Linked DNA regions of Homo sapiens. The protein of the gene in region 3 purifies or fractionates together with the protein of the main gene of each other region. This does not show direct contact. Each region holds a gene or a part of one and is shown on either strand. Other genes may lie near its edges. The genes, in order: TSKU, XPO4, UXS1 and RMND1.

Region 1 (6,129 bases), on a different chromosome or scaffold from region 3:
TAGCAAGTCACTCCTGCTAAAGATGGTCAGCCACCTTCCTTTTCCGATCCTCAGTTTCTCTGCTCTAAAATGGGGATGAGACTGCTGGCTCACAGAGTGACTGTGCGGACTAAATGAAAGCATGTGTGTCCAGCACTAGCAGAGAGTGAGGACTGGCCCTGACTGTCACTGTCGTCACTTCCCACTGCAAATGCCCAGCCCCGGGCATAGGCCCGGCACAGAGCAGGAACCCCGGGAGAGGTGTCTACTGTGCAGGGCTGAGCAAGGAACCTAGTTCAGTGCCCTGGGAGCATCTGCAGACAGTTACCTAGGTAACTCCTGCCCCTTTACATCAGATGCCTCTTTACATCGGCTGTTACTACCATTGCCTCAGTTCTGTATCTTCTGGCTGCTGGGTGATGACTGCCCTGTGCCTGTGCACAGCCCTTCACAGTTGGCAGTAAGGGTTAATCAACTTAGGTGAAGAGGGCAGGGCAGAAATTGCCACCCTGTAGTGCAGAGGACAAGGCTGAGGCTTAAAGAGGGGCAGCGAGAGGTCCCCTCTGGCGGGATAGCATTTGGGTCGTATTTTGAGCTGCTGGTTACATAAGTGGGAGCTCATATGAGGCCATTTGGCATTTCACGGACCCCTTGTATAATCACCTCTGGGAATCAAAGGGTAATCTCAGGGCCTTTGTGCTGTTTGTTTAAACCCCAGGAAGGGTGGGTATGAATGAGCAGATCAGCTTAGCAGGGGAGGTGGGGCCTTTGGTGGTAATGAGCCCTGCGGTGAGGAGCTCGCCCAGGGGAACAAAAGGGGCCTGAAGCAACTTAATATTTTCCTTTTGGTTCCAGACATTGGAACACTCTGTCCTGCCTCAGCTGGGACCATGCCCAGGATGCACCTGGGCTGGATTTAATCCTGAAATTGGCCTCTACAAAAGAAAGGGGTGGGAGAGGAGGGTCCCACATGGGGAGGGGGGCAGGGGAGAAGAGTCCCACTTTTCCCTGCCCCTGGGCAAAGCCAGAGTGCAGATCAAGTGGCTAGCCCTTTAAAGTTTCATGCAGGGCTGGTAATGCAATCCTGCTGCTCCCTCCCACCCACCTTCCAGTCTGGAAGGTGGGCAGGTCCCTGGCCCATCTCCTCCCCCTCTCTCACCTCCTTCCTGAAGTCCAGAGGGAGGGATGGGCAGGAGGGCAGGGGCCCAGAGCAGGGCCACCCAGATGAAGAGCCTGGCTAGAAGGAAGCTTAGTGCCTTCTGTCTCCCAGGCTGCTGAGGGGCCACTGTGCAGGGCCGGGGTGACGACAGACTATCCAATTGGTCTAGTTAGAAGCTCCCACTGCCCAACCCTCTCCTTCTCATGCTGGCACCACTGAGCACCACCATCCCAGGAGCTACAGTGGACGTGAACACAGGCTTTGAATCCAACAGCAGTGGGTGGTGTGACCATTAGATGTGACAACACGTATGTAGCACCTGGCATCTGTAGCAGCCACCACTGTAATTGTACAGAGGGAACTGAGATCTGAGGAGGGACACTGGCTCATGCCACAGCATGTGTCAGTGGGAAAAGCCCCTCCTGCACCCTGCCTCTCCACCAGCTACTCTGCCAGTCCTGCTGGAGGCAACGCATATGAATATAGTAATTGGAGTACACCAGGCCTGGGTCCCATTCCTGCCCTGCATTTTACTAGTTTGGGGTAAGGCCCTATTCCTCTCTGAGCCTCTGTTTCTTCATCTGTATAATGGGGGAAGCAGCCTAACTGCCTGCCCGAGGTTAAAGGAAGAACCAAAGAGGTGTAGTAGCTTAATCTGCTGGTGGCAAGGGACAGAGTAAGGGGGAAAGAGGCTTGGGACAGGTGTCCCCAAAACCCATCTGGGAATCTGGACACCCACGTTGGACACCAGGATGCCCAATGAGAAGGGAAGTTCCTGCCCCTGGATGACAGGCTAGGGGGACAGGGCAGGTGGAGTATGGGTGCGGTGGGGCAGTCACTGCAGGCCCCATTGCAGGGAGGGAGTCCTGGTCTTGAAGGCCAGCCCCGGCCAGACCACAGGTGCTTTCTCTGTCAGTGTCCCCTCTAGTGCCACTCCACTCTGCTGTGTGGCTGTCCAAAAGCGTCTTAACCTAAGGCCCAGTTCCCTTTTGGTAAAACAGAGAATTTTCTGCCTTGGAAGGTGGTTGTGAGGGTCAGATGCGACCATGCTGTGGGGCAGCCAGAACAGTGCCTGACGTGTAACACTTGCTCAGCAGAGAGTGGGGCACCCTGGGCACACCCTACCCTCAGCCCTGTGGATGAGCCCCTCACCCGGGGCCCGAGGTCTAGACCAAACCAGGGACTCTGGACCATCAGAGCTGGAGAGGCCAGCCCGAGAAACCGTCTAGTCTGGTGGGTTTCAAACTGGGTTTCCTAACACCCTAGGCAGGGATGGTGGGCAGAAGTCGAGGGCTTCAGGTCCCCCTCACTTCAGCCAGACCAGGCCCGCCTTCATCTGCTGCTCTTGTTTAAGAAAGGGATCTGCTGCTTCTAGTTGAAAATTCACCACCTGGCCTCACGCCCCTTACCATACAAATGGAGAGGCAGAGGCCAGAGAAGAACTGGGACTAGGAACTCTGGGGAGTGTTCCAGGAAGCATTCCAGGAGGTCGGGGTCTGTGACACCTTCCAACAGTGTCTAGACTGGGCTCATGTCCTGTGTGGTGGCTTTAGACCATCTGGTGCATTCATTCCTCACCTGTGGCTCTCTTTCTAGCCCCCACCATGCCGTGGCCCCTGCTGCTGCTGCTGGCCGTGAGTGGGGCCCAGACAACCCGGCCATGCTTCCCCGGGTGCCAATGCGAGGTGGAGACCTTCGGCCTTTTCGACAGCTTCAGCCTGACTCGGGTGGATTGTAGCGGCCTGGGCCCCCACATCATGCCGGTGCCCATCCCTCTGGACACAGCCCACTTGGACCTGTCCTCCAACCGGCTGGAGATGGTGAATGAGTCGGTGTTGGCGGGGCCGGGCTACACGACGTTGGCTGGCCTGGATCTCAGCCACAACCTGCTCACCAGCATCTCACCCACTGCCTTCTCCCGCCTTCGCTACCTGGAGTCGCTTGACCTCAGCCACAATGGCCTGACAGCCCTGCCAGCCGAGAGCTTCACCAGCTCACCCCTGAGCGACGTGAACCTTAGCCACAACCAGCTCCGGGAGGTCTCAGTGTCTGCCTTCACGACGCACAGTCAGGGCCGGGCACTACACGTGGACCTCTCCCACAACCTCATTCACCGCCTCGTGCCCCACCCCACGAGGGCCGGCCTGCCTGCGCCCACCATTCAGAGCCTGAACCTGGCCTGGAACCGGCTCCATGCCGTGCCCAACCTCCGAGACTTGCCCCTGCGCTACCTGAGCCTGGATGGGAACCCTCTAGCTGTCATTGGTCCGGGTGCCTTCGCGGGGCTGGGAGGCCTTACACACCTGTCTCTGGCCAGCCTGCAGAGGCTCCCTGAGCTGGCGCCCAGTGGCTTCCGTGAGCTACCGGGCCTGCAGGTCCTGGACCTGTCGGGCAACCCCAAGCTTAACTGGGCAGGAGCTGAGGTGTTTTCAGGCCTGAGCTCCCTGCAGGAGCTGGACCTTTCGGGCACCAACCTGGTGCCCCTGCCTGAGGCGCTGCTCCTCCACCTCCCGGCACTGCAGAGCGTCAGCGTGGGCCAGGATGTGCGGTGCCGGCGCCTGGTGCGGGAGGGCACCTACCCCCGGAGGCCTGGCTCCAGCCCCAAGGTGGCCCTGCACTGCGTAGACACCCGGGATTCTGCTGCCAGGGGCCCCACCATCTTGTGACAAATGGTGTGGCCCAGGGCCACATAACAGACTGCTGTCCTGGGCTGCCTCAGGTCCCGAGTAACTTATGTTCAATGTGCCAACACCAGTGGGGAGCCCGCAGGCCTATGTGGCAGCGTCACCACAGGAGTTGTGGGCCTAGGAGAGGCTTTGGACCTGGGAGCCACACCTAGGAGCAAAGTCTCACCCCTTTGTCTACGTTGCTTCCCCAAACCATGAGCAGAGGGACTTCGATGCCAAACCAGACTCGGGTCCCCTCCTGCTTCCCTTCCCCACTTATCCCCCAAGTGCCTTCCCTCATGCCTGGGCCGGCCTGACCCGCAATGGGCAGAGGGTGGGTGGGACCCCCTGCTGCAGGGCAGAGTTCAGGTCCACTGGGCTGAGTGTCCCCTTGGGCCCATGGCCCAGTCACTCAGGGGCGAGTTTCTTTTCTAACATAGCCCTTTCTTTGCCATGAGGCCATGAGGCCCGCTTCATCCTTTTCTATTTCCCTAGAACCTTAATGGTAGAAGGAATTGCAAAGAATCAAGTCCACCCTTCTCATGTGACAGATGGGGAAACTGAGGCCTTGAGAAGGAAAAAGGCTAATCTAAGTTCCTGCGGGCAGTGGCATGACTGGAGCACAGCCTCCTGCCTCCCAGCCCGGACCCAATGCACTTTCTTGTCTCCTCTAATAAGCCCCACCCTCCCCGCCTGGGCTCCCCTTGCTGCCCTTGCCTGTTCCCCATTAGCACAGGAGTAGCAGCAGCAGGACAGGCAAGAGCCTCACAAGTGGGACTCTGGGCCTCTGACCAGCTGTGCGGCATGGGCTAAGTCACTCTGCCCTTCGGAGCCTCTGGAAGCTTAGGGCACATTGGTTCCAGCCTAGCCAGTTTCTCACCCTGGGTTGGGGTCCCCCAGCATCCAGACTGGAAACCTACCCATTTTCCCCTGAGCATCCTCTAGATGCTGCCCCAAGGAGTTGCTGCAGTTCTGGAGCCTCATCTGGCTGGGATCTCCAAGGGGCCTCCTGGATTCAGTCCCCACTGGCCCTGAGCACGACAGCCCTTCTTACCCTCCCAGGAATGCCGTGAAAGGAGACAAGGTCTGCCCGACCCATGTCTATGCTCTACCCCCAGGGTAGCATCTCAGCTTCCGAACCCTGGGCTGTTTCCTTAGTCTTCATTTTATAAAAGTTGTTGCCTTTTTAACGGAGTGTCACTTTCAACCGGCCTCCCCTACCCCTGCTGGCCGGGGATGGAGACATGTCATTTGTAAAAGCAGAAAAAGGTTGCATTTGTTCACTTTTGTAATATTGTCCTGGGCCTGTGTTGGGGTGTTGGGGGAAGCTGGGCATCAGTGGCCACATGGGCATCAGGGGCTGGCCCCACAGAGACCCCACAGGGCAGTGAGCTCTGTCTTCCCCCACCTGCCTAGCCCATCATCTATCTAACCGGTCCTTGATTTAATAAACACTATAAAAAGTTCTTTGCTTTACTCAGCCAGTGTCCACTGGCAATCCCTGGGCTGGGCTCTGGGGCCACAAAGATGAATCAGGTTAGGCCCTGCCCTGGGCAGCTTGTTCTCCCTGAAAAGCCTGATAATCTCAGGATTTGGGGAGTAAGGTGACGTGAAGGAGGGAGTTCCTGCACCCTGTTCACCTCTCATCTCCCGTGGCCCTACCCCACTGTTCCTGCCACCCCAGCTCCAGCCATAGCCATGAGCATGCAGGCCCTTGCACACCTGTTCTCTTGCTCAGGCGTTACTGTGGGACCTTGCCCTTGCCCTCACCCCTGTCTCTCAACCTCCTTCCTATCCAGTAGACCTAGTTCTTGCCCGCCCGCAGAAGCTTCCTTGGCCCCTTCCACCTCCCTCCTCTGAACTGCAACAGTATTTTGTTCTTCCTTGGTGCTTCAGCTGCTATGGTACCCCAGCTCCTGTTTGCACACTTCCACTGACAGAGATCACACTTGGAGCTCATCTGGGTGGCTCTGCTGTCACCAAGTTCTTCCTTCTAACTGGCCAGTCTACAGGGAATGTCTACCATCATCACCAATGACAGGTTTTTCCTGATCCCTACTCTGTGCCCAGAACATTCAGGCCATATGCACTGGTGGGAGCTTGCCCATCTTGTAATCAGGCCTCCCCAGGGAGAAGTATCAGCTTGAGGCCCTGGGTCCGAGGCTGGCACCCAGCGGTCAAGGTAGGAAAGAGCTGAGGCTTGGCGCCGGGCGGTGTGGAGGAGAGGGAGGTCAGGGTGAGACCCCGGGCCCCCACAGTCCTCCTGTTTGTTCTCCACTTCCCCTACATTTCCTGGGACAGGAGAGGATTCAGATGGAGGTAGGG
Region 2 (7,840 bases), on a different chromosome or scaffold from region 3:
CCAGGCTGGAGTGCAGTGGCACGATCTTGGCTCACTGCCACCTCCGCCTCCCGGGTTCAAGCGATTCTCCTGCCTCAGCCTCCCGAGTAGCTGGGACTACAGGTATGTACCACCACACCCAGCTAATTTTGTATTTTTAATAGAGACAGGGTTTCACCATGTTGGCCAGGCTGGTCTCGAACTCCTGACCTCGTGATCCACCTGCCTCGGCCTCCCAAAGTGCTTGGATTACAGGCGTGAGCCACTGCACCTGGCGTGTTACTTTCGTTTTCATTTTACAGGCTAAGGAAACTCCAACATGTAGATGCTAAGTAATCTACACAAATTTACATAGCAAGGGGTAGAGACTCAAACTCTGGTTTGTCTGTTACCAGTCTGTGGTTCTTAAGCTGTAGGATACTGGGACCAGAAAGGAGGTAAATTAATTCATCTTTGGCTAATTAAGGTTGTTAATGCTCCGTCAATTATTAAGCATTAAGCTACATATTTTAAACAGAGTGATCTTAGCATTTATCCATCTGTGGGTCTGAATATATCTTATGGAAAATTGCTGTATTTTAACTGTTAATATGCTTTGAGATTCAAAATGCAAATAGTGATGTATTTCATAATTATTTTTGCTTAATTTTTCATTAGGTAACTCATATAGTTGTTTTATGGAAATCAGCATAGAATTTTAGAACATAGAAGAATCTTAGATCTTTTGGTACAGAAGTCTTAGGGAGTCTAGGATGAATATCAAAAGGAAATTGTAACAAATTTTTTGGTGTAAATGTACATTTTTAGTAATAGGGTCTAGAGCTTTTATCACCGTCTCTGAGAGACTAGAAACTGAAAAATAAGAATCAAGTCTAAGCATTCTCCCTTCTATGCTACAGATGGGGAAACTGAGGTTCAAAGAGGTAGAAGTGACTTGCCCAAGGTAGGTCACAGAGCAAATTCATGATATAACTGATCCAGGCTGAGATCACCAGACTCCCCTTTCAAAACCTTTACTCTTTTTTTTTTTTTTTTACTTTTTTTACTCAACCATGTTGGTTCTTAGTCAACATATACTATAAATGTTACATTTTATTACTTGATGGAAAATGTCTAAATATGGTACATCTATATTCAATCAATTTAGATTATTGGATAAGCTGCCAGATAAAGTAGTACAGTTGTCCCTCGGTGTCCATGAGAGGTTAGTTCCAGGAACCGCCTCCACCCATGGACATCAACCGTGCATTGATACTTAAGTCCCCCCGATCCCCTCCCTTTCTTTTGAGACAGGGTCTCTGTTGTCCCAGCTGGAGTGTAGTGGCATGATCATGGCTCACTGCAGCCTTGAATGGGTAATTTTTTAAAAATATTTTTTTGTAGAGAGGATCTCACTGTGTTGCCCAGGCTGGTCTTGAGCTCAAGTGATACTCTTGCCTTGGCCTCCTAAAGTGCTGGAATTATAGGCGTAAGCTACTGTGCCCAGGTGAGTTTCTTACATGATATGGTATGGTAATTGTGTATGACCTATGCACATCCTCTTGTATACTAAAATGTAGGAGGTGTTTTGATTTTAGAGACAACATTATTGAAAAGTTTAGTGTTCTTATAGTATTGATGCCACATTCATTTGCAGTCCAAAGAGCGCTTTATTTATTGTCTTGAATTTGCTTGGTTTTGTTGCCCTGTCTTCATTAGGTTGTTTTGGATTGTCCTTAGTGATTGTGTGTAGCAATAATATAAGATAGTGCAGAGCACACATATTAACTGATACATTATAGAAAAGTAATTTTCATAGGTTTTTTTTTTCCTTTTTCTTTTGAGACAGTCTTACTCTTGCCCAGGCTGGAGTGCAATGGCACAATCTCAGCTCACTGTAACCTCTGCCTCCCAGGTTCAAGTGATTGTCCTGCCTCAGCCTCCCAAGTAGTTGAGACTGCAGGTACCTGGCACCACGCCTGGGTAATTTTTGTATTTTTAGTAGAGATGAGGTTTCAACACGTTGGCCAGGCTAGTCTTGAACTCCTGACCTCAGGTTATCCTCCCACCTTGGTCTCCCAAAGTGCTGGGATTAACAGGCGTGAGCCACCGCACCCGGCCCATACATTTGTTTTTAAACCAGGATGGATTTAGTGAGTGTAAATCCAACTTTAATAAACGAGATTCATGACTGGTTTTCATAGATTTTATTATAGTGGAATCTGGTTAATATCTTCTAAAATACTTGCACATCTGTAGTCCTATAGAAAAATTTTTGTCTTCATTCTCATATCAGTCCTGTGAAGTAAATAGGATGAGATATTCCTAAACCTTATAAATGAGAAAACCTGGCCAGGCATGGTGGCTCACACCTGTAATCCTAGCACTTTGGGAGGCCAAAGTAGGTGGATCACCTGAGGTCAGGAGTTCGAGACCAGCCTGGCCAACATGGCGAAACCATGACTCTACTAAAAATACAAAAATTATCTGGGCGAGGTGGTGCATACCTATAACGTAATCCCAGCTACTTGGGAGGCTGAGGCAGGAGAATCACTTGACCCCAGGAGGCAGAGGTTGCAGAGATTGTGCCATTGCACTCCAGCCTGGGCTGTAGAGCGGGACTCTGTCTCAAAAAAATAGAATAAATAAATAAATAAATATGAAAACCTGATATTCAGAGATGGCAAATGATTTGCCTGTTGTCATGTAGCTAGTTTGGATCTGGAATCCAATTTCTGGCCATTGATTTGTTTTAGAACATTTCTTCAGTATATAGAAACACAGCATGTTAGACACTATGCTGTGTATGCTGAGGAGACAGAAGAAGCACCTTCTTTTCAAGGAGTGGAGAAAGGCAAAAATATTAGCAAATGTTGGTTGGTAAAGTTATAATAGAAGTAGGTACAAACATCTATCTCAGGCTGAGATAGGGACTGAGAAAGGGCTTCTTGGAATAGGTAACCCTTAAGCTGAATCATGAAAAATAGATTAGAGTTTTCTAGTTTGATAAGCAATATCCCAGGTGGAGATATATATTTTGGGGAATATAGTCTGAGAGAATATAGTTTGGGGAAATACAGTGAGTTTGAGGAATATTTGAGCATTTATGTAGTAGATATTTCCTGAGACCTTCAATGTGTAAGGTACACTGCCTTTATTTTTTTGTAACCACAGTACACGTCATAAAAATGAAAATTTTAATTAATTGAACCTACTTTTCTTATTTGAAAGATGCATTATAGTAAGTATGCATTTTTGTTTATTTCAGCCCTGTCTTGTAGTACCTGCGGTGGCACTAGATATTAGAAAACTGGCACAGCATTCTTTTTCTCAAAAAAGCTAATTAATAGGAAATTTATGTTTCAAATTCAGTTCAATTAAATGTGTATTTGCAGTTGGACTTGTGTCACACTAATTGGAACATAGCCAGTGATCCAGAGAAGAAATGCAAAAAGGCATTTGAAATCATCCATAGATGCCTAAAAGGCAGTTGTTAAAATTTAACAGCATTTTATGATTAAAACAATTGGATAAACTAGGAATTGAAGGGAATTCTCAATATGATAACAAATAGTTATCTGAAACCATGTATTAAATGATGATATCCTCAGAAGTAAAACGGGAGTCCTAATATAACTGTTATTTAATACCTTCTGGAGGGTCTAACTGATACAGTAATACAAAAAATGGGAATAAGTGCAGATATTGGAAAGAAAGGCCAAAAAATGATTATTTGCAGGTGATATGACATTTCGGAAAAAAAGTTTAAGCAAAATAACTAAGACTGTTGGAACCATTAGTTCTTTGGAAAGATGACCAGATGTAAGAAAAATAAATGGGTTGCAAGATTTCCTTTATATCAGCAGTGATCAGCTTAAAATTGGAAAAAAGATCCCATTCTGTTAGAAAGAAAAACTGTAGAAATAAATTATAGGGCACTGATAAGAAACATGCACCATTTTTGTGAAGAACATGATACAGCTTATTTGCAGAATATAAAAGAGCTGAATTAAATGAAGGCTATGCTCCTTGGTCTGAAAGGTCAATCCGGTTAAGGTGGCAATTTCTCCCTCATTCATCTCTAAATTGAATATAATGTCAATCAAAATCTCTCTTTCCTCCTCACCCTTTTCTGAGGTGGGAGAAAAATTAATTGATTAGAAAATATATCTGGAAGTCTGTGAAGGGTTTGGGGACTTGATGTAGCAACTATTACAATGTATTCAGAAGCTAAAGTAATTGAAACATAGCATTGGCATAGGAAAAGAATAGAAAGTTAGAATAGTCTAGAAACAGAACTAAGAATAAAATGTTATTTCACATTGTAAAGGTATAGGGAAGTATGCTACAAGTTTTCGATACAAGAGCCTTCAATATATAGCTGACCCCCAGCTATTTCACTTCTGGCCATTTATTCAGTTTATGGAAATACTTGCTTATACACAAAGAATGTTTACTGTAGTGTACTTTGCTGTAGTGAAGATTGAAACAACGTAAATGTCCAGTTACACCAAATTGATTTAATATACTGGTATTCTTTATAATGGAATTTTATGGAACTCTTAAAAAATATGGTATATCTAAAATGTGATAGCTTTTTTTTTAAATGGGAAGATCTGAATGAACATGGAAAGATACTCAAAATAAGACGAAAAATTGCAGAATAGAATATATGATCCCATTTCTGTTTTCTAGAAAAAGTTCTGTATATATTTGTATATGCATAGAAACGGAAATGGAAGGCTTATACTAAACTTCTTTTTTTTTTTTTGAGACAGAGTCTTGCTCTGTCACCCAGGCTGGAGTGCAATGGTGCGATCTCGGCTCACTGCAACTTCTGCCTCTCAGGTTCAAGTGATTCTCCTTCCTCAGCCTCCCGAGTAGCTAGGATTACAGGCATGCACCACCACACCCAGCTAATTTTTGTGTTTGTAGTAGGGACAGGGTTTCACCTTGTTGGCCAGGCTGGTTTTGAACTTCTGATCACAGGTGATCTGCCAGCTTCAGCCTCCCAAAGTGCTAGGATTACAGCTGTGAGCCACTGTGCCTGGCCTATACTAAACTTCTAAGAATGGCTGCATAGGGAATGAGATTGCACATGGGAGGAGTGCTTAATATAGTTTTAATATAGTTTGAATTTTTTACAATATAAAAATTTAGACCATAAATTAATACTCCGTTTTAGTAAATTTGAATGTTGCATGCATTTCTATTTTCTTTTCTTTGAGATGGAGTCTCACTCTGTTGCCTAGGCTGGAGTGCAGTGGCGCAATCTCGGCTCCCTGCCACCCCTGCCTCCCGGGTTCAAGCAATTATCCTGCTTCAGCCTCTAGAGTAGCTGGGACTACAGGTGCACGCCACCATGCCTGGCTAATTTTGGTGTTTTTAGTAGAGACAGTATTTTACCATGTTGACCAGGCTGTTCTCAAACTCCTGACCTCAGGTGATCCGCTCGCCTCGGCCTTCCAGAATGCTGGGATTACAGGCGTGAGATACCACACCCAGCCTGAATGTTGCATGTGTTTTAAAAAAATCTACCTTTTTTTTTTTTTTTCTTTGAGATGAAGTTTCACTCTTGTTGCCCAGGCTGGAGTGCAATGGCGCCATCTCGGCTCACTGCAACCTACACCTCCTGGGTTCAAGTGATTCTCCTGCCTTAGCCTCCCCAGTAGCTGGGATTTACAGGTGCCTGCCATGATGCCTGGCTAATTTTTTGTATTTTTAGTAGAGACGGGGTTTTACCATGTTGGCCAGGCTGGTCTTGAACTCCTGACCCTCAGGTGATCCACCTGCCTTGGCCTCCCAAAGTGCTGGGATTATAGACGTGAGCCACCACACCCGGCCAAAAAAAAAATCTACTTTTAAAATCTACTTCCTTGAATGTCCTGCAATTATTTTTATGTTGAAGAATGTTCAAAGCTGTATCATGGTTCAGACTAAGACTAGGTTTGTGGTTTTGCATTTATAGACTTATAAATGCAAATGCAGGGCATTCCATTTCCACAGATTTGTTTAATCACTGCTAAGTATAATATAACCTTGTGAATAAATAAAAGGAAAAATGTCTTTTGAGTGAGAAAGAGCTAATAGAAAACTAATAAACTTTATTCTGAAAAAGAGATAGGGATTCACTCTTTCTCTGTTTGTAATTATGGGAAAAATTAGGTCCATTGTAATTTGACAATATTTTAGAGAAGGGTTTTTCAGAGTTTAGAACATGCATAACCAATCTTAGGGTGATTATTAAAACTGCAGATTTCTGGCTGGACACCGTGGCTTACACCTGTAATCCCAGCACTTTGGGAGGCTGAGGCGGGCAGATCACCTGAGGTTGGGAGTTCGAGACCAGCCTGACCAACATGGAGAAACCCTGTCTCTACTAAAAATACAAAATTAGCTGGTGTGGTGGCGCATGCCTGTATTCCCAGCTACTCGGGAGGCTGAGGCAGGAGAATCACTTGAACCCGGGAGGCGGAGAATGCAGTGAGCCAAGATCATGCCATTGCACTCCAGCCTGGGCAACAAGAGCGAACTCTGTTTCAAAAACAAAACAAAACAAAAAACTGCAGTTTCCTTTGCCTTACCTACGGAGGTTCTAATTTAGGAGGCCATGTTTCTTTCTTTTTTTTTTTTTTTGAGACAGAGTCTCACCCTGTCAGCCAGGAGTGCAGTGGCGCAATGCACGTTTAGGCTCATTGCAACCTCCGCAACCTCCGCCTCCCAGGTTCAAGCAATTCTCCTGACTTGGCCTCCTGTGTTCCTGGGATTACAGGCACGTGCCACCATGCCCGGCTAATTTTTGTATTTTTAGTAGAGACGGGGTTTCACCATGTGAGGGAGTTTCACCATGTTGGCTAGACTGGTCTCGAACTCCTGACCTCGTGATCCTCCCACCTCGGCCTCCCAAAGTGCTGGGATTACAGGCATGAGCCACCGTGCTTGGCCATGGAGACCGTGTTTCATTCCATATCCTCATCTTTTTTGTCTTTCTTAGTGGGTCTGAAGGGTCAGTATAGTGAGTGGGTGGCCTCTGCCTTGTATCCGAGCCATAAGACTGTTTCTGTCCACTGTCTTTGTTGTCCAGCCAGGGCTACCTACATAATTTGCAGGGCCCAGTGAAAATGAAAATGTAAGGCCTCTTGTTCACAAAAAGCAGGGGAAAAGTGCCATTAAGTGTTGTGAAATATAAAGCATTTTTCTTTAAAAATGTTTGCACCTTGTGAGGCTTTGGATAAGTTACTGCCTTTCCAGCTTCTGTTGACTCTTTTCCAGTCGCTTTTTCTCTTCATCAGCCACACTAGCTTTTTTGCAACCCTTCCCACTTGTGTCCTGTGTCCTGTCACAGGGCCTCTCATATACTAGTCCTTCTGTCTGGAATGCTTTTCTTCCCTGTCACTTCATCCTTCAGTTCTCTCAGTAGTCAGTTTCTCAGGGAAGCCTTCCTTAGCCTGCCTGAAAGGTGAGATTCACCTGTCCTTTTATAACAGTGTAGTTCTTTTATTTTTTTTTTTTTATTTTTTACTTTTTGGAGTTACTCTAAAACCCAGCTGGAATGCAGTGGTGTGATCATGACTCACTGCAGCCTCAAACTCCTGGGCTGAAGCGATCCTCCCCCTTTAGCCTCCCGAGTAGGTGGGACCACAGGTGCACGCCACCACACCTGGCTATGTTACAATGTTTTTGTAGAGACGAAATCTTGCTGTATTGCCCAGGGTGGTCTCAAGTTATTGGTAGTTCTTTTATAACACCTTATTTATGTGATTGATTAATGAACGTTGGTCTCTCTTGCTGGACTCTAATGTATATTTGTTCAGGGACCCTGTTTGCTTTTCCTTGATTATGTGTGTCTAGTACAGGGCTTGGCACCTTGTTGCTCAGTAAT
Region 3 (7,840 bases):
CGAGAATGAAAGGACAGCCAGAGATTGGTTTATCTCTTAGATGCAATATTTTAGGGGGTGGTACTAGTCAAGGTTCTACAGAAGAACAGAACCAATAGGATGTGTAGAGATTTAGAGAAAGAGATTTGTTACGAGAGATTGGCTCACATGATTATGGAGGTCAAGAAGTCCCACCGTCTGCCTTCTGCAAGCAAGAAAGAGAACCAAGAAAGCCAGGGGTGTAGTTCCAAGGCCTGAGAACCAGAGAGCCGAGGGCAGATCGATGTTCTGTGTAAGCAGTTGACCTTCCTCCATCTTTGTGTTCTAGTCAAGCCTGTAAGGGACTGGATGATACATCCACGTTGGGGAGGGCCATGTGTTCTACGCAGTCTACACATTCAAATTATCCTCTCTTCCGGAAACACCTTCACAGATACCCCCGGACATAATGTTCAACCAGATACCTGGGCATCCTGTGGCCTAAGTTGACACATAAAATGAACCATCACAGGGGACAGGTTGTTTGGAGTAAGATGATTCATTCTTCCTATCTGGAAAGAGCTTTATCTTCTTTGTTACCGTCTCCTGCTCTGGTCACCAGACAGAACAGGGTGCTGCTGCTTCTGCTTAGAGGTGTGCGTGATGCCCTCTTCTTGCCATCACAAGCGCCTACCCCTCCTACACTCTCTCTGTCCCGCCCCCCTCCATCATACCAGAACTAGACCATAGAGGAAAAGATCATGCACTTGGTGTTTAGGGAGATTCCGTTTATTCTTCCTACTCGGGGGATGCAGTCACTGTGCCCGTGGGTCCTGTCACTGGGGCAGATTCAGATGGGGTTACCCTCAGGCTCTTCTGCACTTGGTGCCCTATGGGGGTTGGGGGCTGCTGAACGGGCACAAGCGTCGATGATACCTAGTAGGAAAGGAAAGTCTCCCAAAGAGAGGCCTCAGCAAAGTGCTGTTAGAGTTAAAGGCAAAAATGACTCGAGCTAGGGCTTGAGCTATGACTGAGATTGAATGTGGAGGCCTTGCAGGAATGGTAAAGAGTCTTCCAGGAGAGATACAAAAGGCAAAGGGAGACCATTGGTAGGCTGGAAAGAAACCCAAATTGGACTTTGTATTCTGAACCGAGAGGCGCTGTCATTAGCCATCTTGCACTTGAGACAAGATGCCATGAACTTTGCCTGGCTTTTTCCTGGTGAGGCCCTTTCCTCTATGTAACTTGCCCACCTCCCAGACCCTGTGCTAGAGTTCTTTCTCTGATGAAAGTTTTTCGTAACCCCCAGACACTACAGCAGCAGGATAGCTCCCTTGGCTTCACTCCCTGACAGTTGTCTCTGTAGATCCTGCGTGAGTCATTCCATGAAAGTGCTACAGAAATAGTCTTAGTTTCAAAATCTTTAAACTCAGTTGTTTTTGAAATATAACACATTGCATTTGTGATGTGTGTTTGTGACCAAAGTTCAGAGAAAACTATAAACTAGAAAGAACTCAGGTAGGGGGGAATATAAAATGTATAGTTACTCTGGAAAACAGTTTGACGCTTTCTTAAAAAACTAAGTATGCATCTACTGTAAGACTCAGTAATTGTATTCTTGGGCATTTCTCCCAGAGAAATGAAAATTTATGTTCACATGAAAACCTGTGTGAATGTTCATAGCAGCTTTACTTGTAGAGGTCAAAAATGAGAAGCAACCAGAATGTCCTATCATAGGTGAATGATTAACGGCAGTGCATACATATATCCCCGGGAATTCTACACAGCAATAGATTAGGAAGGAACTTTGATACACACTGCAGCTTGGATAGATTTTGAGGGAAATATGCTCCATGAAAAAATTCAGTCCTAAGAGGCCGTGTTCCATTTGTGTATCATCCTTGAAATGACACAATTATAGACATGGAGAATTGGTTAGTGGTTGCCAGGGGTCAGCAGGTGGGAGGGAGCGAGGAGAGGCTGTAGAAGGGCCCTGTGAGGGATCCTGGTGGAGATGGAAATGCTCTATCACTTTTATCAATGGAATGTCCGTTTCAGTGGAAATAGTCACTGATCATATCAATGTCAATGTCCTGATTGTGGCACAATCTAGTTTTGCAAATTTTAGCATTGGGGGAATCTGGGTAAAAGATACATAAGGTCCCTATACTACTTTGTACAATTGAATTTGAATGTACAAATATCTCAAAAAATTTAATCAGGAAGAAAAAGATCTCAGAGTCCTTCATTTTGAAGCTACTACATTGTCTGACACACTGATACCCCTGGCTGCTGCACGCTAGAATCCTACCACCCCACCCAGCCTCACCCAGAAGCGCACATAGGTTGCATGTGCCTGGCTCGTCTCACCCTCCTAGCAGTGCTTCGTGGGCATGTGTTGGCCCCTGCTGTTGGTGGGGGGGCAGAGCTGAGGGGTGTCCAGCACAGCCCCCCTCTAGTGTAGTGGCGATTGGGGGTGGGGTATGTCGCCTGTCTTAAGTACAGGGTTAGTGACGGTCAGGGGGGTTCTTGGATCCTGTAGTGAACCACTGTACACTGGGACTCTGTGAATGAGTTTGGAAGACTTTCCATACTTACTTGACCACCATAGATAATGATGTTCTGGTCAGTTACATGTGAGTGGTCAGTCCAGGAAAGGGGTTCAGAGCAGAATTGAGGAATGTGACAGTTGCTTTGGAAAAGGTGCTGTGTAAGCTGAACCGCATAGGAGGAAGAAGAATGAGTGGAGAGTTACCCAGACAGGGTGGCATGGGCAGTTAGAAGAGCCCAGGAGATGTTCAGGAAGTGGCAAGCTGACCATTGTGGAAGTTAAGGAGAAAAGGGCCTTGCCTTCTGCCAACCAAGGGAAAGTTACCCAGTAAAATATGGGGTAATATTTGGGGGCAGAGGAGTCTTCACGAAACTCCTCAAATCACACTTTATCAAACTAACAGATTCTGCGTTTGGCCCTGCTTATGACAAGTATTCAACAAAATACTGGCCTTCTGAGAATCCATTTATGTTTTTCTTACTGTATTTGTTTTGTTTATTTTGGTGCCAAAGCAGACGCAGTAAGGGTAGATAATTGGATAGATAATTAAATGTCTTTAATACTAAAACATTGCTTAAATTGGCCAGCAAAAAATGTGCCTGCACATGTAAATTCAGTCTCTTTTATCATGTCATTGCTTTCTGTAGGGCTGGCAAAACGAGTCGGTGCCCGTCTGCTCCTGGCCTCCACATCGGAGGTGTATGGAGGTGAGTAGGAGGCTCTCTCAGGAGATGTTCACTCCAGCCCTTGGACTGTTTTCATCCTGTCTCAGAAGAGTCCAGTGTTCTTTTCTGAGGAGGCCCAGCCTGCCCATGCTCCTCTTGTGCACAGGAGGCTACCTGTCGGCCTCCCGGGTCGCCAAGCTCCTCTTCCTTGTGGGACAGCCTCTCTTGTTTGATCACACATCACTGGAGGTCTGCACCCTGTCACCTGGCCAGTAAAGACCCACCATTTATGATTCCACAGAAGTGTTTCTGCCATTCTGCTCTGAAAACACCCCACAAATCACACTATCTTTTTACCTGTTTGTCTAGCACATGTCATTCTTCTATGTGAGTCATGCATGCTGCATGCCTGACCTCCCAAGAGCTCATGGGCTGGCCTTTAAAGCTTGCTGGGAGAAGAGACATGCGCTGACTGCCTCCCCTGTTGTATAACGAGTTCTGGAAGAACCTTAAGCAGGTAGTGTCAGAACACCCACGAGCTTGTTTTACCAAGCTACAGCCTTCCTCTCCTTCACTGCCTGAGAAGGAGTTGAGGAGTGGGGACCAGGAGCTGTGTTTTCAATGTGTGTTGATTTCTCTTCAGCCCCAAACCAGCTGGGTGTGCAAGGTTCAGGAGAACTGCTTAGCTGATACAGCGGAAGCCAGGTTTTAGTATGATGTAATTTTTCTATTTTACATTATTATTGTGGACAAGAGAAGGAAGTAAGAGGGTAAAATCAGAAGAGACTTTTTTTTAATTAAGGAAACCAAATGAAAAAAATCATAGCAACAGAGAAATTCTTCTAAATGCAGTGATATTCTTTGTAATCTCTATGAAAAGGTAGTTCATTGTCTACTTTTTTGAAGTCCTGGGCAGTTATTAATAAAAGAGCAGAGTGTGTCCCTCCCTACCTATGGGGTATGGTATCTGTCCAGAGGGGAACAGTGACATCTTTCCCACAGCCATCCTGCTTCCCCTACTCATCTCATTTATTATCTGCATGTCTGACAGGAGCCTGTGTTCCTTAGGCTTCCTAAATAATTGGAGAGTGTAATTTATGGAAGTCACCAGGTGCTCTCCTCTGACCTTGAATAACCAAAGTAAACTTTTGTGGAGTATTTGCTTAGTGTCTTAGCCTCACAGAATGCTGGAAAGGGGAGATGATTGGAAATTATTTTTGACTCTAGGTCTTTACTTTTGTATTAACAATGTAAGCTGTCCCTGTTTTATTCCACGGTGATTTTGTGAGGGGACTTATTTAGAAGCTTGGCATCCTGGGCATTTCAGTCCAGACGGTGCCAGTCCAGGGACAGATGGGCGTACCCAGCCTTTTCTTTCTTGTCCTTTGTCAAATTTATGACCATCTTTTTTGGAGGGTAGCTTGCCCAGCTCTTGTTAAAGATCCCCAGAAAAAGGTCTGGGATCAATCATCTGGTACATTCTGTGAATTTAAGTCAATGGTTCCTTTCTCTCAGGAAGTATTTTCCTTAGAACTTTTCTCTCACTGAGTAGTGAGAAGTTTGCTCTTTGAAAGGGAATTTTAAACCACAGCAGCAGATACATAGACCTTTCTTTGCAGCACACTTCTGCATTGCTGCGGAGGCTGTGCTGACCCAGAGGGATCGGCTGAGCAGACAAGTGGCAGGATACCTGTCTGTTTACCTCCCTGCACCTGCTCAGGCCCACTGAGTCCCAAGTCAGACTTCAGGGGTAAGATAAACAAGATGGGAATTTATAACAATGCATCTTTTTGTCCAGATTTCGTGGCAAAGACTTATACATTTTATATCATAGTTGTACTCAAGTATGTATAAAATTCTTGGTGTACTAAATAAATTAGGTGTATATTCATATTCCAGAAATATACTTGTGTGAATAAAAGAATTTGTTACGTGTTTTCTTCCAATAGTCTCTTCCCCTGGTATGTCTTAAAGTGTGATTGATTTATACGCTAGAGAAACAGGAATTGGGAGTGTAAAATGAGGGCTAGAAGAACAGGCACCCATTTGCCAGGGGCACCCCGTCCCTCCACCTGCCCTACAGGAGCCTCCACGTTGACTTGTCACGGGTCCCAGATTTGTTCTGCTGATGGCACATGTCAAAGTCATCATGTTCCAGAGATGCTGCGTTTTTCATTTTTTTTCAATAAATACATGATTTGCTCCAGTTATCAACTTTATAAATATAAAACAAAACCACATATCTCTTCACATAGATTCTATTTAATTGTAATTTGTGTAGCACTCTGAAAGTTAAGAACAATTTACGGAAGAGAGGGAAGACTTAAAATTGGGAGACCTGATCTTTTTCTTTTTTTTTTTCCCCTGTAAGTAAAATATTGTCATTGCTTAATATCATATCCTACTGGAACTCAAGAGAATGGACTGGAAACCTGAGGTTGCCTCTTTAATACATCTCTCCATCTCTAAATGGGTCTTTCCGAAGTTCCCTTTTGCATCATAAATATGCATTATTGATATGAACTGGAAAAAGGAAAGATGAAAACAGTCTCACTTTTCTCCCATCGTAGATCCTGAAGTCCACCCTCAAAGTGAGGATTACTGGGGCCACGTGAATCCAATAGGACCTCGGGCCTGCTACGATGAAGGCAAACGTGTTGCAGAGACCATGTGCTATGCCTACATGAAGCAGGTATTTCACCAGGGTCTAGGCTTGCGGTTTAGGCGTGCTGAGCACCCTGACCTCAGATGTAAAGTGTTGTAAAGGAATGAATGCCATGACTGATTTTGTCTGGGGATAGGTGTTTGGGAAGCTCAGTTTCCCAGTATTATAAATTAATGGTATTATCAACAGCTTTTTCCATGTATCTCCTTATTTTAAAAATGATTTCCTAGAGATCAATTCTTGGGTTTGGAATACTATTTTATGGCTATGAACAGAATGCTTCTTCATTGCCAGTTGCTCACCAGCAGCTAAGAAGTACCTCTTTTCCTGAAGCCTCCAAATCAATGGATCTTCTTTTTTTACTTTTCTATCAATTAAGTAAAAAAATGGATGCGTTATTGCTGTAATTTGAACCTCTTTATTGTTATTGATATTTATTTACTGTTATTTCATGCTTTCTTCATTAGTCATTGTTGTGCTGATGATATTTTATGTGACAGATTTGGTCACCTGCATGTTATAGCAGAAATTGCTCACAGACCAAGAGGCCGAGGTTGCCACACTGGCTGTGCTGCTGTGTGACTCCAAGATTTAAGCCGTCATTCTCTCAGTTCTTATCTCTGACACAGGGTTTGTGAAGCCTGCCCTGCCCATCTCAGGGTGGTGCAGGAGCCAATGAACTGTGCAGAGAAGGTGGAGGCCTGGGCACAGGATATCCCATTCATGTTCTCACTGAGTGTGTCCTTGGGCTTGGGTCTGAATTTTCACATCCTCATGAAAATGCCCTCTGGTATAGTGGGACATGCAGGTAAATCAACATGGCTGTGGAACGTTGGTCCAGGACAGGCTGTTGGTAGATGCAGTGTCTGTTTCTGGGAGCAATGCTGTCAGGCCCAGGGCCCAGTCTGCAGGTGAGCCTGGGGAACTGTCGGCTATGTGCTCTGTAGGAGGGGCAAGTGTCATCAGCATGGCCAGCATCCAGGAGTTTTCCTGACTGTCTGTCTCAGGCCCCGGCAGAGCCCCAGTCAAGCATGTGCCAAGGGCCAGGTCTCCTGTTCCTGACCTTGGGATGAGAGTTTAATCGACTTCCCTTCCCGTGGTACCACAGAGGACAGGGCAATGTAAAGCCAGGTAGGCTCTCTGAGGGGTAGGAGAGAATGTCGAGGACTCTCTTTCTCATCATGTGTTTAATGAAATGCCAGCATTAAAGATGCATAAATTAACCTTATGCTATTGTTTATATTTAAACTTTTCTGCTTTATTTCTTGGCCAGAAGCAGAACTAATTGCCTTCTAAGCGACTTTAGTCTGTTGGCTTACATTATCCACTTCCTCTATGAAATGCCGATCAGTTTTAGTAGGAACATACTTTCATCATTTTGGGGCCCAGAATATCTTGACTCAAAAGTTTCAGATGATCTTCCAGACACACAGGACCACTCTGTGTGCATGGGTACTTAGGAGTACTGACTAGAGTGTCAGGGGTACATCATTGCATTTTATTCTAGAATGTGTTCCAGGAGTGATATGATTCTCAACTGTTTTCTTTTGCTTTCAGTCCTATGATTGTATTTCTTACCTAGTGAATTTTTATATAGGTAAAGCTGGTGGACAAATGGGACATTTTGATTGAGCTTTTAGTTTTCATTAAATGATTATTCGGCTAATGTAGTTGATAACTTTATGGGTATACCTATTGCCTTAAGTATAAGCTTGCGATAATTATGGTATTTGGCAATAATAGAAGCAGCACTTCTTGAGCACCGACTGTATGCTAGGTACTGTTCTAGGTATTTGGCAATAATAGAAGCAGCACTTCTTGAGCACCGACTGTATGCTAGGTACTGTTCTAGGGGCCTGGGCTCCAGCCAGGATCTGCATTTCACACAAATGCTAACATTGGACCCGTTCGTGTCATCTGTGCCTGGGGGTTCCGGAAGGTAGCACCTAGTAACTCTGGAACATCAGCATTTAAATTCCTGCTCACATAGGTCTCGGGAGC
Region 4 (7,840 bases), on a different chromosome or scaffold from region 3:
TTAACTGTGTCTTTATTGTGAAAGAGTAATCTAATTATACTTCGGAAAGGAGGCCCTGCTTTTCTACTAAGAGATTAGGAATGTATATATCATTGAAAATGCTGATGAGAAGGGAAATGAAAAAAGAGAATATACAATTTCTACCTAATAAAATTATGAAATTTCAAGGTGAGTTAAGACATTAATCTGGGAGACAGCCATCCTAAAAAATATTTACATAGGATCCAAATTATGCCACTTCAGATTTTGCCCTGTTGACCTAATGCTTATTAGAAAGAGAGATACATGGTTTTTTGGTTTTTCCGATTCCCTCTCAACTAGGCTTTAAAAGCTGGGAAGAAAGTGAAACTATCTCATGAAGAAGTTATGCAGAAAATCGGTGAACTCTTTGCTCTAAGGTAAAAGTTTTCTCTCTAAATAAAATATTTCATATATTTAACAATCTCAAGAAAACATTCCCATAGTTCTGTGGTGAAGAGCAAACATTTACACGTTTATGGGAACTGTAGCTGTTTTCATTTCATTGATTATAAGCAGGGAGAACTCTTACCCATTAGAAGTAGTTGGGCTGTGTTAAGACTGTACTGAAAGAAATCACGCATGTGCAAAAGAGATCACGATTCATCTACATTAAACCCACATTAAGGAGCACAGTAGGTGTTCTTTGAAGGTAGAAAGACATATTCCTGAATTTGGTTAATGGGAATTCTCTGTAAAAATATATCACTGCATCATAATGCTAAATAGGCTTAATTGCTACAGAAAAGTTTCTTTGAATCTGAGACACCAAGATGCCACTGGAGAGAAAAACTGCTGCCAGTTAAACTATGACAATACTTTTTTTATCAGAGGATTAAAATTTTACACTTACTGAAATATCTTTTAATCTTAGCTGGATATAAATTATATCACATTCCCTCTTGGGCATATATGAAAAGGAAAGCATAAGAAAATAAATTATTTAAGGCAAAGACAAGTAAGTCTCAAGTGCCACCTGTCAGACACCATTAATTTTAAGATGCCTCGAGATGTTAAAATGGGAATAACTATGTCTAAAAACTGATGAATCATTTTAAATAAGTATCTGGAAAGGTTTTCAGCTTTTATTATTCTTGTAGTTGTCCCAGGATTTACGGAATGAAACATCCCGGATGTTGGTGTTTTTCTCACAGGCAGCATTGTCCAGTTTATCCCTTCTAGCATGTGGAATGAGTTACCAGAGCTCACTGCAAATGTTCACCTAAGACTTGTTTTTCCATATTCTCCTTAGATGCTCTGCCTGGAGAGAAGTGATACAGTGTTTCATTGTCTGTGTATCTCTCATAGCTCAGGACCTATAGTTCAGGGTACCAACAAAACTTAAAAACCCATCCATCAGGAGCATCCTGCAGCATATCTGAAGCCTCAAATTCTCTGAGAAGTAGGGTAGAGAGATTCTTCTCTCCTGTTCTCTTGGTCATGCAAGCAGAAATTGATGTAGTGAATTATAATATCCAAACTGAATAGTTAGGACTAAATATACGTAGGTTTGTGAATAGTTTCTATAAAGGCTTACTTTTACTATCCTGTTTCCTTACCTGTACAATAAAAATGCTTATTTGTTAATATAAGGAATGTGATACATCTGTGAAAATAAACATGGCAGATAATATTAGATTAAAAAACTAAATCTAAATTTATATAGGGTATGATCCCATTTGTGTAAGCAAATAAAAATATTCATGTTTATCTTTATATGCATACACATGTACATGTGTTTGCTTGCACACACATGCATGTATGAATACAGAAAGATCTGGAAGTACACAGCAAAGTGTCTCTACAGGCCTGTCCTTGGGGAGAATAAAGGATTTAAGTAGTGTGGTAGCATAAGAGAGCCTACCATTTTTCTGAATCCTTCTCTAGGATATTTTCCTTTTTTTTTTAATCGTGAACAGGTATGTATGTGTTACTTTTTTTTTTTTTTTTTTTAAACAGGGTCTTGCTTGTCACCCAGACTAGAGTGCAGTGGCATGATCATAGCTCACCAAAGCCTTGATCTCCTGGGCTCAGGGATTCCTCCTGCCTCACCCTCCTGGGTAGCTGGGACCACAGGAGTGCTCCACCACACCCAGCTAATTTTAAAAATAATTTGTAGAGACAGGGTCTCAAACCCTTGCTCAAGCAATCCTCCTCCCTAGGCCTCCCAAAGTGCTGGGATTACAGGTGTGAGCCACCACATCAGTTTATGTGTACTTTCATAACTTAGATTTTTATTTAGTTAAACATCTAAGTGTAAGGCCAGGCACGGTGGCTCACACCTGTAATGCCAGCACTTTGGGAGGCTGAGACAGGTGGATTGCTTGAGGCTGGGAGCTCGAGACCAGCCTGGCTAACATGATGAAACCCCATCTCTACCAAAAATACAAAAATTAGCCAGGAATGGTGGTGTGCGCCTGTAATCCCAGCTTCTTGGGAGGCTGAGGCATGAGAATTGGTTGAACCCAGGAGGCGAAGGTTGCAGTGGAGCCAGGATCATGCCACTGCACTCCAGCCTGGGCGACAGAGCAAGATTCTGTCTCAAAAAAGAAAAAGGCTGGGCACGGTGGCTCACATCTGTAATCCCAACACTTTGGGAGGCCGAGGCCAGTGGATCATCTGAGGTCAGGAGTTCAAGACCAGCCTGACCAACATGGAGAAACCCCATCTTTACTAAAAATACAAAATTAGCCGGGCGTGGTGGCACATGCCTGTAATCCTAGCTACTCGGGAGGCTGAGGCAGGAGAATTGCTTGAACCCAAGAGGTGGAGGTTGTGGTGAGCCAAGATCGCGCCAATACACTCCAGCCTGGGCAACAAGAACAAAACTCTGTCTCAGAAAAAAAAGTAAGCACAGACTTCTTATATTAAAATGTAGAAATTAAGAGAGAGAGTGTGTATGTTTATGCTTGCTTGTCTAGTGTTTGCATAAACACTGGAAGGATACAGCGGAAACTAGAAGGGATTACTGATAGGGAAAGATACAGATAAGAATAAGAGTTAAGATTTATCAATTTTTACCTGTTTATATCTTGATCTGCTCAGGAGGCTGAGGCAGGAAGATCACTTGAGCCCAGGAGTTTGAGGCTGCGGTAAGCTATGATTGTGTCACTGCACCCCAAACTGGGTGACATATGAAGACATTATCTCTAAAAAAATTTTTTAAATAAAAAACAAAAAAGTGTGGACATATTAAATTTTTTTTTTATTTGAGATGGGGTCTCACTATGTTGCCTAGGCTGGAGTACAGTGTCACAGTCTTGGCTCACTGCAGCCTCTGCCTCCGAGGTTCACATGATCCTCCCACCTCAGCCTCCCAAGTAGCTGGGACTACAGGCATACACCACCACACCTGGCTAGTTCTTGTATTTTTTGTAGAGATAGGGTTTCGCTGTGCTGTCCAGGTTGGTCTTGAACTCACAGACTCGAGCAATCTGCCCGCCTTGGCCTTCCAAAGTGCTGGGATTACAGGCATGAACCACCATGCCTGGCCCTAAAATTTTTAATAAAAAAAGTTTAGGCTGGGAATGGTGGCTCACACCTGTAATCCCAGCACTTTGGGAGGCTGAGGTAGGCAGATCACGTGAGGTCAGGAGTTCGAGACCAGCCTGGCCAACTTGGTAAAACCCTTTACTAAAAATACAAAAAATTAGCCAGGTGTGATGGTAGGCACCTGTAATCCCAGCTACTTGGGAGGCTGAGGCAGGAGAATTGCTTAAATCTGGGAGGCAGAGGTTGCAGTGAGCTGAGATCATGCCATTGTACTCCAGCCTGGGTGACAAGAGTGACTCTGTCTCAAAAAAAAAAAAAAAATTGAAAACAAAATGAGTTTTTTTCTGTGTACTTCATAAATAATGTTGGTATTAAAGATTGAATTAATTTGGTTCAGAAGTTTGAAACTCATTTGTAAATTTTATTTACATGTTTGTTGGCAGTATTTTGCAAAGGTCAGCATTAACAAATGTTTTCAGCCACATGCAATGCCACATGCCTGTAGTTCCAGCTACATGGGAGGCTGAGGCAGGAGAACAGCTTGAGCCCAGGAGTTCAGTTTGCAGTGAGTTGTGATCACACCACTGCACTCCATCCCGGGTAACATAGCAAGACCCTCTCTCTTACCAAAAAAAAAAAAGTTTTCATAAAGCACTATGTAAATATTAAATACAATAGAAACAATGATTTTTAATTCAAGATAAATAAAAAGTTATAATTTTCCTTTTTAAAGGCACCGTATAAACTTGAGTTCAGACTTCCTGATTACTCCTGATTTCTACTGGGACAGAGAAAACCTGGAAGGACTTTACGATAAAACGTGTCAATTCCTTAGCATTGGCCGAAGAGTTAAGGTACGTATTTTGCACTTCTAATGAGAGAAAAAGACACGTTGTCGCCTATAAGTTGAATATGTTTAACTGCTTGCAGAGAAATATCTTGTTTGACTTCCATTCAAATCTCTTTATATTTCCCCTTCTTGTCCTCTGTACAGTCACTTCAATTTTTTGTGTCAAAGGATCTTCTGATATTAGCTCTACAGACTAGATAAGGTTGGTGAATAAGATGAGAGTTTGGAAGCCTAATGGTCCATCAGTAAGTTCTTGTCAAGTTTCAAGCAAGAGTTCATGACTGCTTCTGATCTGTCATGGTGACAGTGAGAATAGAAATAAATTTAAGAAAGAATCATGTAAGACAAATCAAGTGATGGGTAATAAGAGGCCATGGAGAAGAAAGAATAAAGGATGACTGATGTTTGCCTGGAGGTGACAAGTAGAAAGGTGGAAAAACAATAATGAGAGGTCAGAGAGGGGAGGTGACAGACTAAATCTAAGATATGCTGAGATTAGAGTAGCAACAAGATATCCAATTAGCTCCGTCATGCAGGCATTTAGAAGGGCAGAAGCAAAGTCGGGAAAAGAGACGTGTATTAAGAAATCCCAGCACTTTGGGAGGCTGAGGCGGATGGATCACCTGAGGTTGGGAGTTTGAGACCAGCCTGGCCAACATGGCGAAACCCTGTCTCTACTAAAAATACAAAAATTAGCCAGGCATGGTGGCATTCTCCTATAGTCCGAGCTACTCGAGAGGCTGAGGCAGGAGAATCACTTGAACCCAGGAGGTGGAGGTTGCAGTGAGCCAAGGTCGAGCCAGTGCACTCCAGCCTGGATGACAGAGTGAGACTCCGTCTCAAAAAAAAAAAAAAAAAAAAAGCTGTAGTGATGGAGGTAGACCACATGGGGAAAGAGCATAGAAAACAGAAAATTGACATTAGTACAATGTGTGCACATAGTTCTGTGACATTTTGCCACATCTATAGATCCATGCAACCACATGATCAAGACACAAAACTGTGCCAGGTGCGGTGGCTCATGCCTGTAACCCCAGCACTTTGTGAGGCTAGAGGTGGGCAGATCACTTGAGGTCAAGAGTTCGAGACCTGCCTGGCCAATATGGTAAAACGCTGTCTCTACTAAAAATACAAAAATTAGCTGGGTGTGGTGGCGCGTGCCTGTAGTCCCAGCTACTCGGGAGGCTGAGGCAGCAGAATCGCTTGAACCCAGGAAGTGGAGGTTGCAGTGAGCTGAGGTCATGCCATTGCACTCCAGCCTGGGCGTTGCAGCGAGACTCCATCTCAAAAAAAACAAAACAAAAAGACACAAAACTGTTTTATCACTTTTCCTCATGCTACCCTGTATAGTCACACTGCCCTCCCCCTACCCGGACTGTCCCTAACCCCTGGCAGTGAGTAATCTCTTCTCCATCTCCATAATTTTGTCATTTTGAGGATGTTATATAGATAGTCATACAGTATGTGACTTTTTTTTTTTTTTTTTTTTTGAGACGGAGTCTTGCTCTGTTGCCCAGGCTGGAGTGCAGTGGCTCAATCTTGGCTCATTGCAAGCTCTGCCTCCCGGGTTCACGCCATTCTCCTGCCTCAGCCTCCTGAGTAGGTGGGACTACAGGCACCCGCCACCAAGCCCAGCTAATTTTTTTTTGTATTTTTAGTAGAGATGGGGTTTCACTGTGTTTAGCCAGGATGGTCTCGATCTGTATGTGACTTTTTAACTGGCTTTTTTCACAGAGCATAATGCCCTCAACTTGGATCCATCCAAATTGTTGCTTGTATCAAAGTTCCTGTCTTCCTGTGGTTACTGAAACAATTTTTTGGTATTTCATTTTGATGTTACTTTTTAATATATCTCGTTGCATAGATATTTAGTAGTTGCTCTGGTTATTACATCTTACGTATATAACTTATTACAATCTACTGATTTCAACATCTTGCAGATTAAATGAAGTATAGAATCTTTATTTCCCTAATGGATGATTGGATGCAGAAAAAAAAAAAGAATTCTTATTTCTTTTATATTCCTTTACCCTTCCGTATTTATAATTTTCTTAACTATTCTTCTGCAGACATAGAAAACTTCATCAGATAATGTTATAATTTTTGCTTCAACCATCAAACATAATTTAGAAAACTAAGAAAAGCAAAGTCTGTTGTATGTGCCCATGTTTTTATTCTTTCTGTTCTTTTCTCCTTCTGATCTTCTAAGATTTCTTTTACTGTTTTTTTTTTTCAAGAACTTTATTTAGCCATTCTTTTAAGGTAAGTCTAGTGAGACAAATTCTCTTAGTTTGTCTTCATCTGAGAGTGTATTAATTTTCTCTTCATTCTTGCAGGATATTTTCCTAGAAATAGGATTCTAGGTAGACAGTTTTCTTTCTTTCAGCACCTGAAAAATGCCATGCCACTTCCTTCTGACCTCCATGGTTTCTGACGGAAATCTGCCATAATTCTATGACATCTACATTTTATCTTTTATTATCATTTCACAAGGTCTTTGAGGCTCTGTTCACTTCTTTTCCAGTATATTTTGTCTCTGTTAAGATTGGGTAATGTCCTTTGTTTCATCTTCTAGTTGATTGATTCCTTCCTCTGTTACATTCGTTCTGCTGCCCAACATTGAGTTTATTTCATTTATTATATTTTTCAGTTCTAAAATTTCCATGTTTTTTTATTTGTATCTTCTGTTTCTTTGCAGAGACTTCCTGCTTTTTCGTTTGTTTCAAATGTGTTCAGAATTGCTTGTTGAATCATTTTTATGATGGTTGCTCTAACATCATCTAATAATACCTAACCTCAGATACCTCTTGATATTAGTGTCTACTGATTGTCTTTTCTGATTCCCTCCAACTAATTTTAATACCTCCAGTTTCCCTCATTGCCTCAAGTGTTCTGGCTTGATATACAAGGTCCTTCCTATTGTTTCTGTTTTTCAATCATATTTCCTACCAATCCCCACATTCACCTTGTATCACATCAAAAATAAGTGATTAGCCTGGGAAACACAATGAGACCTCATTTCTACTAACCTTTTTTTTAAAAAAATTAGCCAGGTATAATGGCATGTGCCTGTAGTCTCAGCTACCCTGGGAGGTTGAGGCAGGAGGATTGCTTTAGCCCAGGAGTTTGAGGCTGCAGTGAGCCATGATCACGCCACTACATCCCAGTCTAGGTGACAGAGTGAGACCCTGTCTCAAAAAAATAAAAATAAAAAATACATGATTTATAATTTCAAAAACCTACCATGGCTTATTGAATGCTATGTTCCACTTTAGTGTCTACATTTTTTTCCTCTAAGCTAGACACCGCCCCTTGCAAAACCACATCAAAGCTATCTGCAGTTGTCACTGATCTTGGCACCACCTATTCCTCTGTAGGTGTCTTCCAGCACAGGACAGTAGAGATCATCACCACTCGGCAAGAAAACCAAGCTATGTTGCTTTTAGCTGACACAGAAAGATTGATTAGTGATGGTTTAGG

Evidence for each region.
Region 1: the proteins of UXS1 (region 3) and TSKU purify together in Homo sapiens (co-immunoprecipitation; 3 studies listed by BioGRID and IntAct, with this or other methods). This does not show direct contact.
Region 2: the proteins of UXS1 (region 3) and XPO4 purify together in Homo sapiens (co-immunoprecipitation; 3 studies listed by BioGRID and IntAct, with this or other methods). This does not show direct contact.
Region 4: the proteins of UXS1 (region 3) and RMND1 purify together in Homo sapiens (co-immunoprecipitation; 3 studies listed by BioGRID and IntAct, with this or other methods). This does not show direct contact.

Annotation. Positions count from the first base shown.
Region 1 is NC_000011.10:76,792,875-76,799,003, forward strand, and holds the end of TSKU (tsukushi isoform b precursor), read left to right. Parts: intron 1-2,734; coding exon of another isoform or gene 2,735-2,742; coding exon 2,743-3,804; 3' UTR 3,805-5,270; downstream 5,271-6,129. UniProt on the Homo sapiens protein: Contributes to various developmental events and other processes such as wound healing and cholesterol homeostasis through its interactions with multiple signaling pathways.
Region 2 is NC_000013.11:20,892,521-20,900,360, reverse strand, and holds part of XPO4 (exportin-4), read left to right. Parts: intron 1-7,840. UniProt on the Homo sapiens protein: Mediates the nuclear export of proteins (cargos), such as EIF5A, SMAD3 and isoform M2 of PKM (PKM2). In the nucleus binds cooperatively to its cargo and to the GTPase Ran in its active GTP-bound form.
Region 3 is NC_000002.12:106,120,996-106,128,835, reverse strand, and holds part of UXS1 (UDP-glucuronic acid decarboxylase 1), read left to right. Parts: intron 1-3,156; coding exon 3,157-3,216; intron 3,217-5,744; coding exon 5,745-5,866; intron 5,867-7,840. UniProt on the Homo sapiens protein: Catalyzes the NAD-dependent decarboxylation of UDP-glucuronic acid to UDP-xylose. Necessary for the biosynthesis of the core tetrasaccharide in glycosaminoglycan biosynthesis.
Region 4 is NC_000006.12:151,413,803-151,421,642, reverse strand, and holds part of RMND1 (required for meiotic nuclear division protein 1 homolog), read left to right. Parts: intron 1-321; coding exon 322-398; intron 399-4,243; coding exon 4,244-4,364; intron 4,365-4,371; exon of another isoform or gene 4,372-4,562; intron 4,563-6,094; exon of another isoform or gene 6,095-6,225; intron 6,226-7,840. UniProt on the Homo sapiens protein: Required for mitochondrial translation, possibly by coordinating the assembly or maintenance of the mitochondrial ribosome.